Linked DNA regions of Homo sapiens: region 1 is linked to region 2. Evidence: fine-mapped expression QTL. Tissue or cell type: whole blood. Region 2 holds a variant in brackets; the other region holds the start of a gene. All regions are shown on one strand. Distances are between the middles of the regions.

Region 1 (5,150 bases), 56 kb after region 2:
CTGGGATTACAGGCGTGAGCCACTGCACCGGTCTCAGGAAGAATTACACAATTTTTCACAAGTGTTAAAGAGTGCTGCGTAAAGGGGACAGAACAAGAGTAAATATTTGATGATTAATTAAGATTTCCTGAAATTCTTTTCCCTGACAGATGGGTGGTATAATTCCAGGAAGTATTTCAATCTCTAGCCTAGATCTTAGGTTTGCCATTTTAAAACAAAGAGATGAATGTCTTCCACCAAGTTAATCTGTTTATGCCTTAGTCTGATCTGAGAAATGAGGATAATAATTATGCCTAACTTATACCTAACTCATTTAACTCAACTGAGTTTAAGTGATTAACTCATAAGTGAATCATTTAATGTTCATTATGAGTTAACTTGAGTTAGTTTAACACAAGTTAACCAACTTAAGAGAGTTACATGATCAACTCATTTAATGTTCAGATTCAATAAATCAAGCAAATTTCTTAGACCACTGCCTGATACATGGTAGATACTCATATTAGCTATAATGATTAGTATTCCAAAAAAGGGTGGACTGAGTGAAAGAAGCGAAACACAAAGGAATACACTCTGCACTCCAAAGTTAACCTGAAAACTTTGGAACCTTGTCGGGGGAGGTAGGACATGCCTCATTATTCCCTCCTCCCTTTTGGAATTCAGGCCCAGCTGACCAGCACTAACATTAAAACAGATCTTAAGACTGACAAAGCAGACTTTGTAGCAATAAGATACCAAATTCCAGCGGGACTCTAGTATGACATCACATGACAGATAGCAAGCCCTGAAAGTGAAGTATTTTACCCCAAATTACGTTTCTTCGCCATATCTTGAAATAGTCCTGCAAAGCTAAAGCTATCTCTTGTGGGGAAAATCTACATTCTGAAGAGAATCCCCTTCCTTTTCTAGGCCTTTTTCCTGATTCAGGAGAGAATCAACTCTGATAAGAAACATTTACAATTTATTCTCTCAATAGACTGCTACCTGGAGACTTCCTCTGCCTAAGGGAAATCTTGGTCTCCTCAACCTCTTATCTTAATGCAGACATTCCCTTCTTTTTTCAGTTTTTTTTTTTTTTTTTGAGATAGTCTCGCTCTGTCGCCCAGGCTGGAGTGATCTCGGCTCACTGCAACCTCTGCCTCTCAGGTTCAAGCTATTCTCCTGCCTCGGCCTCCCGAGTAGCTGGGGTTACAGGCTCCTAGCACCACGCCTGGCTTTTTTTTTTTTTCTTTTGTATTTTTAGTAGAGGTGGCTTTTCACCTGTTAGCCAGGCTGGTCTCGAACTCCTGACCTCAGGTGATCCACCCGCCTTGGCCTCCCAAAGTGCTGGGATTACAGGCGTGAGCCACCGTGCTAAACCGCCTTCTATTAATTCTATCTGCAGCCACAAGTCCTTATATAATCCAGACATTCCCTTCTGTGGATTCCAGGTGTTTGGACAAAACTTTAAATCAATTGTTCATCAGAAAATCTTTGAATCTTAACTATGACCTGGAAACCACTCCCCCTCCCCCAGTAGTCTCACCTCTCCAGATGGAACCAATGTATGTCTTGTATGTACTGATTGACATCTTATGTCTCTCCAGAAGCACACATTCTCAGGATTTCCCAAGAGCTGTATCAGAGGCCATTGGTCACTCATATTTGCCTCAGTATAAATCTCTACAAATATTTTAGCGTTTGACTCTTTTCAGCACAGGTAGAAAAATTAAATATTGTTTCTTTTTTACATACTTAGTTTCACCCCAAAGCTCATTAGATTCCCTAACACTATGTAGGTTCTATTTATTCTGAAGAAGGAGCTTGACCTGACTCACATTATTTACTAGCTGAAAGGCACATTTACCTGCGTTGAACTCGGGATCGTCTTCCAGGGCGACGACAGCTCCCTCTACGGCATCCACGGCGCTCCCGCCCTCCCGGAGGATGCCGTAGCCCACGGTGGCGGCTCTGACCATGCCCTGGTGCACTCGCTCCTTCCGATCCTTGGAGATGGGACCGGCTCCGCCGCCGTGGACCACTACGATGGGATTCATGTCGGCGGATCCTAGGCAGCAGGAAGGCGAAAGCGTCGTCCAAAGCCAGCCCAAGGAAGCCGCGCGGGTACAAGGTCCTCGGGAGACCCTGTGGGGACAATGCCCAGTCTCTGTTCTGAACGGCTGGGTTCGCAGCTGGGGGTGGGTAGGGGCGGCTCGGTCGAGCTTGGTACGAAAAGCCCAGGGGCCCGGCGCCCTCCCGCGTTCCTCTCCGCCCCCGGCCCGGACCTGCTGGGGGTCTCAGTTTCCCCGGGGACGTTAACCCGCGCCCACCGCCGCCCGCCTCCAAGCCCCGGCGCCGAAGGAGGATGTCTATTTCGCCTTCGGGAAAATGTCTATTTTCGTTTATTTCATTCGCCCTCCCGCGTCTCGGGCGGCTGCTCCGGGAGGGCCGCCGACTTACCCAGGGCACCGCAGGACGCGGACGCCGAGACCTCAAGCTGGGTCGAGCCAGCCCCGCAGCCGCCCGGTACCGCCGCTCCCCGACGCCGGCTCGAAACCGCTCAGCCCGCAACCGCTCTGGTCACAACGGTTCTGCGCCTGCGCACGAGGGCGGGACCGCCGCACGGCCCAGTTCCCATAAAGCCCCGAAGGCCGGCTGGCGCGCACCTGTCTCACTCCTCTCAAGAGTCTACGCTCTTGGCCGGCCCGAGCTTCCTGGTGGCACGCGGGGAACCTCCTGCTCCTGACCAGGCTAGGGGCTGGGTGGTTGGGTTGGTGGCGAGAAGCGTGAAGTGGCATGCCACGATTTTGTAATTGCAGATTGAAAAGCAACGCTAGGCTGTGCGCAGTGGCTCATGCCTTGTAATCCCAGCACTTTGAGAGGCCGAGGCGGACGGATCACCTGAGGTCGGGAGTTCGAGACCAGCCTGACCAACACGGAGAAACCCTGTCCCTACTAAAAACACAAAATTAGCTGGGCGTGGTGGCGCATGCCTGTAATCCCAGCTACTCTGGAGGCTAAGGCACGAGAATCGTTTGAACCTGGGAGGCGGAGGTTGCGGTGAGTGGAAATCGCGCCATTGCACTCCAGCCTGGGCAACAAGAGTGAAACTCCGAATCAAAAGAAAAAAAAATTATACTGGGACAATGGGCATAAACAGGGACAGATCCAGGCAAACTGTGATTGATCTCCTGTGGATAGGAGAGTCCTTTCCCTTCTTGTTTACCCACAACTGATAACATATTTTACCACTCTTGGGAATTCCCTTTACTCCTGTTTTACCTTCGTTTCCTGCCTTAAGGCCCAGTTTAAATGAACCCCTCCTGCAAAGCCTTCTCCCTGGCACCCCACTAAGGATCAGTCATTCCCTTTCTAGTGACCTATTGTTAGAGATTACCACAAATTTATTGGCTTCAAACAACACACATTATCTTACAGTTCTGGTGGTCAGAAATTCAAACTGGGTCTGCAGGGTTGAGTTCCTTCGGGAAGCTCCAGAAGAGAATCTGTCTTTTCTTGCTTCTACAAGCTGCCTGTATCCTTGGCTCATGGCCTCATCCTCCATTGCCAAAGCCAACAGCCTAGCATCTTTAACTCTCTCTCCCTCTGGCCTGTTTCTGCTGCTACGTCACTTCTCTCTCTGTCACCATCATCACGATTTTCTTTTCTGACTCTGACTCTCCTGCCTCCTTCTTAAAGGAAGTCCCTTGGGATGACATTGGGCCCACCCAGATAACCCAGGATAATCTCCCTTTCTTACAATTTCTATTCTCATCTGCAAAGTCCCTTTTGCCATGTGAGGAGTGTTCACAGGTGGAGATTCGGATGTGACACCTTTGAGGGCCGTTATTCTGTCTCCCACACTCACCTCTTGGAAGAGGGTTATTTTAGCACGTCTCAACTGGTCGTGAGCCTAGTTGTGTCATCATAATACAGCTCACCATCATTTGGTTTCAGCTATTTATAGGAACCTGAACCCTACCCTATGCCTAGCCCTAACTCAAACCCCATCTCTACTGTTTTTCCTGATTGATCTGGAATTCAGTGATCTGGCTGAGGCTGGGGAAGGTGGCTGGTGGCCCAAGCAGGTAGAATGTTGGTTTCCATTTGATCCTCCCATCTCAGCCTCATGCGTTTATCTACTTCTCTGATGGGCTTCGTATTCCCCATCCCAATCCAAAGTCTCTTAGATAAATTCTCTAGAAAATAAACTTCTGGTCTTTGAGGAGGAAAGAGGAAGCATCTTTTTGTCCGGCTCTGTGGGATAGGAGAAGGAATCTGGCTAACTCCTCTGTAGACGATGTTCCATCAACAATCATTTTATGGATTAAGGATTGTATTCAACTGTCCCTGACGAAACGTGACCACAGTGGTTTAACCAGATAACTGTTGATTTGAAAACAACAATAACAACAACAACAACAACAACAACAACAAGACATCTAGTGGTTGCTGCCCAGGCTGGTGCAGCAGCTCCAAGGTGACACAGATGTCCCATCTCCTTCTCTTCCCTTCAGCATGTGGCTTTCACATTTATGGTGCTCCTAGGCACCTTGATCACTATTGGGGCAGAAGGAATGGGGAAGGGCAAAGGGAAGAAGGCTTTTGCCAGCTCCCCTTTGTTCCTTTAATTCAGGAAAGCTCTCTAGCTTTCCTAGAAGTCCTCCAAGTGGACTTTTATTGGCCAGAACTGGATTGGGGGGCTGCCCCTAGTGGCAAGAGAGTCTGAGTTTTTATTTTAGCAGGGTACATCATGGCCCTGGATAAAATCAAGGTCTCTTGGCAAGAAGGAAGGGTGACAGGCTATTGGAGAGACAACTGGGAACACCTGCCACTCCTGCCTCCCCATCTTTGAGATTCCTGTGTGTCTAAGCCCTGAGTCTCTCAAGCGTTCTCCAGAACAAATGGATTCACCTCTCAAGTAGATTACAACTTCCTTTAATCTGCCATTTGTTATTCATCTTCCAAAGTGACCTTTTTTACCTGCCATTGTCATCTCTCCCATTCTTCCTGTCTTTGTGGGTAGTATTCTTTTTAAGATTGTTTACTATCATTTTAGAGGGATTTTTGAAGGGAGGAGTAACCCATTTGTGTGACTGGGGAGGTTGACTAGAGCCCCAAGGAAGTGATTCTAACTACAGTGGCTCTGGATGTTCTAGGAGGAGGAGGGT
Region 2 (5,150 bases):
GGTTGATGGGGCCACTTCCTTGTTCCCATGAAACAGCTACAAAGGCCGGGTGCGGTGGTGCTGTAATCCCAGCACTTTGGGGGGCCGAGGTGGGTGGATCACTTGTGTTCAGGAGTTCGAGACCAGCCTGTCCAACATGATGAAACCCTGTCTCTACTAAAAGTACAAAAAAATTAGGCAGGCATGGTGGCGGGCGCCTGTAATCCCAGCTACTCGGGAGGCTGAGGCAGGAGAATTGCTTGAATCTGGGAGGTGGAGGTTGCAGTGAGCTGAGATCGTGCCACTGCACTCCAGCCTGGGTGACAGAGCAAGACTCTATCTCAAAAAAAAAAAAAAAAAAAAAAAAAAAAAAGAAACAGCTACAAAATCCAAATGCAGTGATGGTTTTGTGCAAAGATGAAGGCTGATGGGAGGACTTCAGAGGAGCAGGTGGGGGGCGGGAAGAACGAGTGTCCCTTCCCAGCCTTCCCCACACACCATCACCTCTGACAACAGGACACTGAAGGGGACTAACGTGTGCCCCACTCCTTCCTTTGGTCTCAGAGTTTACAATCCCTCAAGCTAGAGAGGAAGAAGTCTAGGAATATTATTTGAGAAAAATGTGTATTATGCAACAGCTACGAGATCAAGGCCCTTCCTTACCCAGGACTCTTCTCTGCAGCCCAGCAGTGGGGCTGAGTCCTGACTGCAGCAACTCCTGCTTGGGGACACTTGGCCTTGGCTCAGGGCCCGTCTTGTGCTCCTTATTATCCCACCATTTTGGTGGGTGAGCCACATGACGATGTATCTGTCTTCCTGGCTGGAAGGAGCAAGTGGGGGCGGGGCCGGGCTGCCAGAGCTTGTTCACCGTGGGATCTGGCATCCGGCATCTGGCAGCGCCCAGGGCAGAGCGAGCTTCCACTGTTGATCTGGGTGGGTTCTTCGGGCCATTTGCTAGCGTTTGTGTTTTGGACAATTCTGCTCTAAAATAAATTGTAGTATTTGGACGAAAATGAAGGTCAGGAAGAGGAATGTTCTTTTGGTTCCAAATTTTCTAAATAGACTGCTCTGATCCAGATAGAGTACCTTCCCTTTGGGCGGCTGAAGCCATGGATAGTTTATAGTTTGCTGCCCTCTTGTGGCACAGAAGTGATAAAAAGATTGTCTTCCCCTTTCAGATGCTGTCAGGCTCATTTCTCTGTTTGACAGTGAGCCATGGACAAGCTGTGGGGCAAAAGCAAGAACTGTACGTGGTCTCCATTTACAGAACTCCCAGGCTGGTGGAGGTGGCTTTTGGTACAACTCAGGTCTGAGGGCAAAAATACACACTTTGGCTTTGCACAAAGGGGCTGACGACCCCATACGTACCCTAGCACCTGGGCTGCCCAGCTAAAGAGGTCAAGTGGCCACAAGCTGAGCCTACGGTAATCTTTAATAACTAGAGTAAATTTCCTTGTGAACTGGAGAATTGGTAAGACAAGCTCAAAACCAGATCTTCCAACTGGCCTCCCTATCCCCCAGCTCCCTCCTTCCTTTTTTCTATCTCCTTAGCGATTGTTGTCTTCTCCAAAGGGTCTCCCCTTTCCAAACCCCAACATGATTCTGTTTTGCCTCCTGTTATGGACTGAATTCTGTCCTCTCCCAAATTCACATGCTGAAGCCCTAACCCCCAGTACCTCAGCATGTGAGTGTATTTGGAGACAGGGCCTTTGAAGAGGTGATTAAGGTTAAATGAGGTCATTAGGGTGGACCTTAATCTAATATTATAATTTACATATTATATATAATATATATTATAAATTATAAATTATATATCATATATTTTTATATAATATATAATATATACAATATATGATATATAATATATAGTATATAATATATAACAAATTATATATAATACATAAAATATATAATATTATATATCATATATTATATATAATAGTATATATATTTATATGATATATAATATATATGTATTATATAAATGTTATATATTTTATTATATATAATATATATGTAAATTATAATATATATTATATATTGTATAAATTATAATATATAATAAATATACCATATTAGATATATTGTAACTTATATATTATATAATTTATATATTATAATATATAAATTATATCTAATATGGTGTCCTCATAAGAAGAGGGGATTAGGACATATAGAGACAGATGGCAGGGCTGTGCACGTACAGAGGAAAGACCATGTGAGGACACAGTGAGAAGATGGCCAGCTATTACACAAGCCATGGAGAGAGGCCTCGGGAGACACCAACGTGGCCGACACCTTGATCTTGGACTTTTAGCCTCCAGAGCTGAGAAAATATTAATAAATTTCTGTTGGTTAAGTCACTTAGTCTGTGGAATCGTGTTGTGGCAATCTTCAACTAATACACCTCCTAATAAAATACTTGTTTCTAAAGGGGGAGTTGTTGCATGTTGAGGTTTTTACTGTGCACCTCTGTCTGGGGTGAATGCTGGCAAACTGCAGGAAGACTGCGCCATAAACCCTATCATGGTTTGGCTTCTTCCTTGACCCACTCAGAAAAAGTTCAGTTCTTCTGAAAAACTCACGAGTACTCCACAAGGTGGCACATATCACCCTCCACACCATCCTCATCTCGAGGTCTCTGTAGTACACCTGAGACCAAGGGGGGAGCTCGTGTACATTCTGGTCTTTGTCAACAGTGACTCCCAACCACACCCTTATTCTTTCAAAATATATTTTATTAGCGGCACATGGAATGTCAAGTTAAGCAAATTCTTTCCAGAGAGAAGGTGAGCCTGACAGACTAAAACGTTGAGCACGGATGATACAGCAGAAATAACATTTCCAGTGTAATGAGAGATAAAGAGGAATACTGCCCA[C/A]CGAGGAAATGACTTTCTTCACCATGCTGACCACACTGCACAGCGCCCGATCCGGCTGGTGAGGATGGGGAGGTGGGAAGAATCTCAAAGCACTGGACAGGGTGAGGACTCAGGAAGTCACGGGGTCAGCCCTACAGCATCAGCTCCTCTCTGTTGTTGGAGAGGCCCTGAGCCCCATTACTCACTATACGAGGACCAGAGTGTCTTTGGCAGGTGGAGGCTGGCTCACGGGAGAACACCAAGTGAGGGGGCTCCTCTGTGAACCCAAGAAACTTCAAGGAACCCCACAGCGTCTCCCTTATGACCTCCCATCTCCAGATTAGGAAGCTATGGATTCCCAGAGGGTCCTTTGGAAGTATCTAGAAATGTCCAGGTAAGTCAGAGAAGGGCTGAACTTTCTTAGAAAAATCACTTTAGTCTCTCATACATGAAGAACATTTTCCTTAAAGGATTCTGGTTCTTTTCCCTGATGTTCTTGTGCAACGTTCTGAGGGTCACCTGGGCTTCGCCCACCACTGCTTCTACTGCTGCTGTGTCACTTTCAAACAGCTCCACCTCCACCGGCCCCTCCCTTCCCACCTTCCAGCCCACAGTGTCTGCAGGCTGTGGGTCTCCCACATCTGTCATGTCAGGATCATGCTGCTGCTTTCTTTCTTTTTTCCCTTTTCTTTTTTTTTTTTTTTTTGATACAGGGCCTGGCTCTGTTGCCCAGGCTGGAGTGCAGTGGAGTAATCATGGCTCACCTCAGCTTTGACCTCCTGGGCTCAAGTAATCCTCCTAATACGGGCATTTCTCTCATCGCTTCAGAACCCGCCCCACAACCAAACATTCAGATGCTTATTAAGGCAACAAAACAAGTGACAGACGGGACAATTTTTCCAATTCTAGATCTAATTGATTAGGCTATGTCTCATGAGGAGACTGTACTTGACCTCTAAGCTAGCATCTGGAATACAATCTTCCAGCGGCTTAGGGAAGGTCGGTGATAGTAGTATCGTCAGGATCAATTCCGAAGTGCAGCTTGCCGTCCTTGGCGGCTGCCCAGGGCATGGAGGTGGAGGTCCACTTTGCCACCCAGTCTCCTGTTTTGCTAACCACGATGAGGCCACCTAAACCTTTAACCCTTGACTTCATATAACCCAACGATAGGTCCGCAGCCTCTTCTACCGTCTTTCCTGAAAACAAGGAAGGGTTGAGAAACAACACACATTACTGAAAGGAATCTCATGGGAAAATCACTTGCCATTTGAAATGCCAAAGTGAGCTAGCAAGGATTTTTGGTAAATGAACGCCTGAATGCTTAAAAGGAGGGTCCTCACCTCCTTGCCCTGAGACAGCGCCCTAGCATCAGCCTGAGCAGAGGGGTCTTCCCTCCCACATCCAGGCTCAATGTCTCTCTACTGCCCCCTTCTCCTGAGATGTGGAAGATAACAGTACTCAATGCTCTACCATTCCAGACCTAAGGGAAGGCGGAGAGTCAAAACAAGGTGTTAACGGCCTGAAAGCAACATCTGTAGCCAACAGGAAAGGGTTTCCTACACTTCTCCATGCGCTTACTTATCAAATACCTTCTATGCACTTATCTTCACAAATTATTTTACTTGTCCTGTGGTCTGTGTACCTTGTTCTATGTGGAACAGGGTGAGTCTAGCCAGGTTCACCTTCAGGATGCTTTCCCCATGCCCTGTGGTTGAGACGGCTCCGATGTCATTGTCGGCATAACCTCCAGCTCCTGCTCAAAAAGGGTGATTGTTCTGAGCAGTAACAGTCAAGAAATTCAAATCCATATTAGAAGTCGGACGCTACATGAAAGTTAAATCGCGAAGGGTGCTCAAGTACCGACAAAGGTCAGGTTAGTAGCCATGATCTGCGGAGGCAAAGGTGGACTAGAAAGCGTCATGTAGATGCCCCAGAATTTAGGAGGATAAAGGGAGCCTCAGAGGGGCAGGCCTGACCTTTCACAGAGCAGCTACAGCAGGACAGCATCTCCTTGGCCCCAAAGCACAGCCATTCCTTTTTGCTCAATGAAGCCACCCTCTCCCTGTCTCCTCCTCATGCCCCACACACTATGGAGGAAGAAACAGCATGACTGCATTATATGGATCTCTAGCAAGGCCATCATGTTCCAGTGATTTGGGGAAAATGATACCCACAACCTAACATCCATGCACACTGTCTAATGGAGGGCAGTTATATTTGTTGAGGGTGGGCATAATTGGACCTGAGGGAACTATTCTGGGCTATCCACTTAAGTGGGGGTCTGGAGTGAAAGCTACTTTGATAAGATTTCTT

The links. PIP is the estimated chance that this variant, and not a neighbour inherited with it, causes the effect.
Region 1: ASRGL1 starts here. The variant in region 2 is fine-mapped to the expression of ASRGL1 in whole blood (TOPMed, PIP above 0.99).

Annotation. Positions count from the first base shown.
Region 1 is chr11:62,334,864-62,340,013 of GRCh38, reverse strand. ASRGL1 (asparaginase and isoaspartyl peptidase 1) reads right to left here and starts at 2,566. Exons shown (of 7, transcript NM_001083926.2): 1 at 2,440-2,566; 2 at 1,847-2,124. The coding sequence starts at 2,036. RefSeq lists an enhancer at 1,986-2,655.
Region 2 is chr11:62,390,962-62,396,111 of GRCh38, reverse strand. It overlaps ASRGL1 (asparaginase and isoaspartyl peptidase 1), which reads right to left. Exons shown (of 7, transcript NM_001083926.2): 6 at 4,480-4,590; 7 at 2,700-4,033. The coding sequence ends at 3,828. Among named protein-coding and RNA genes, the nearest start is that of SCGB1A1, 25 kb to the left of the region's middle. RefSeq lists enhancers at 1,012-1,061, 1,172-1,241. The variant C/A (reference allele first, on the strand shown) is at 2,859.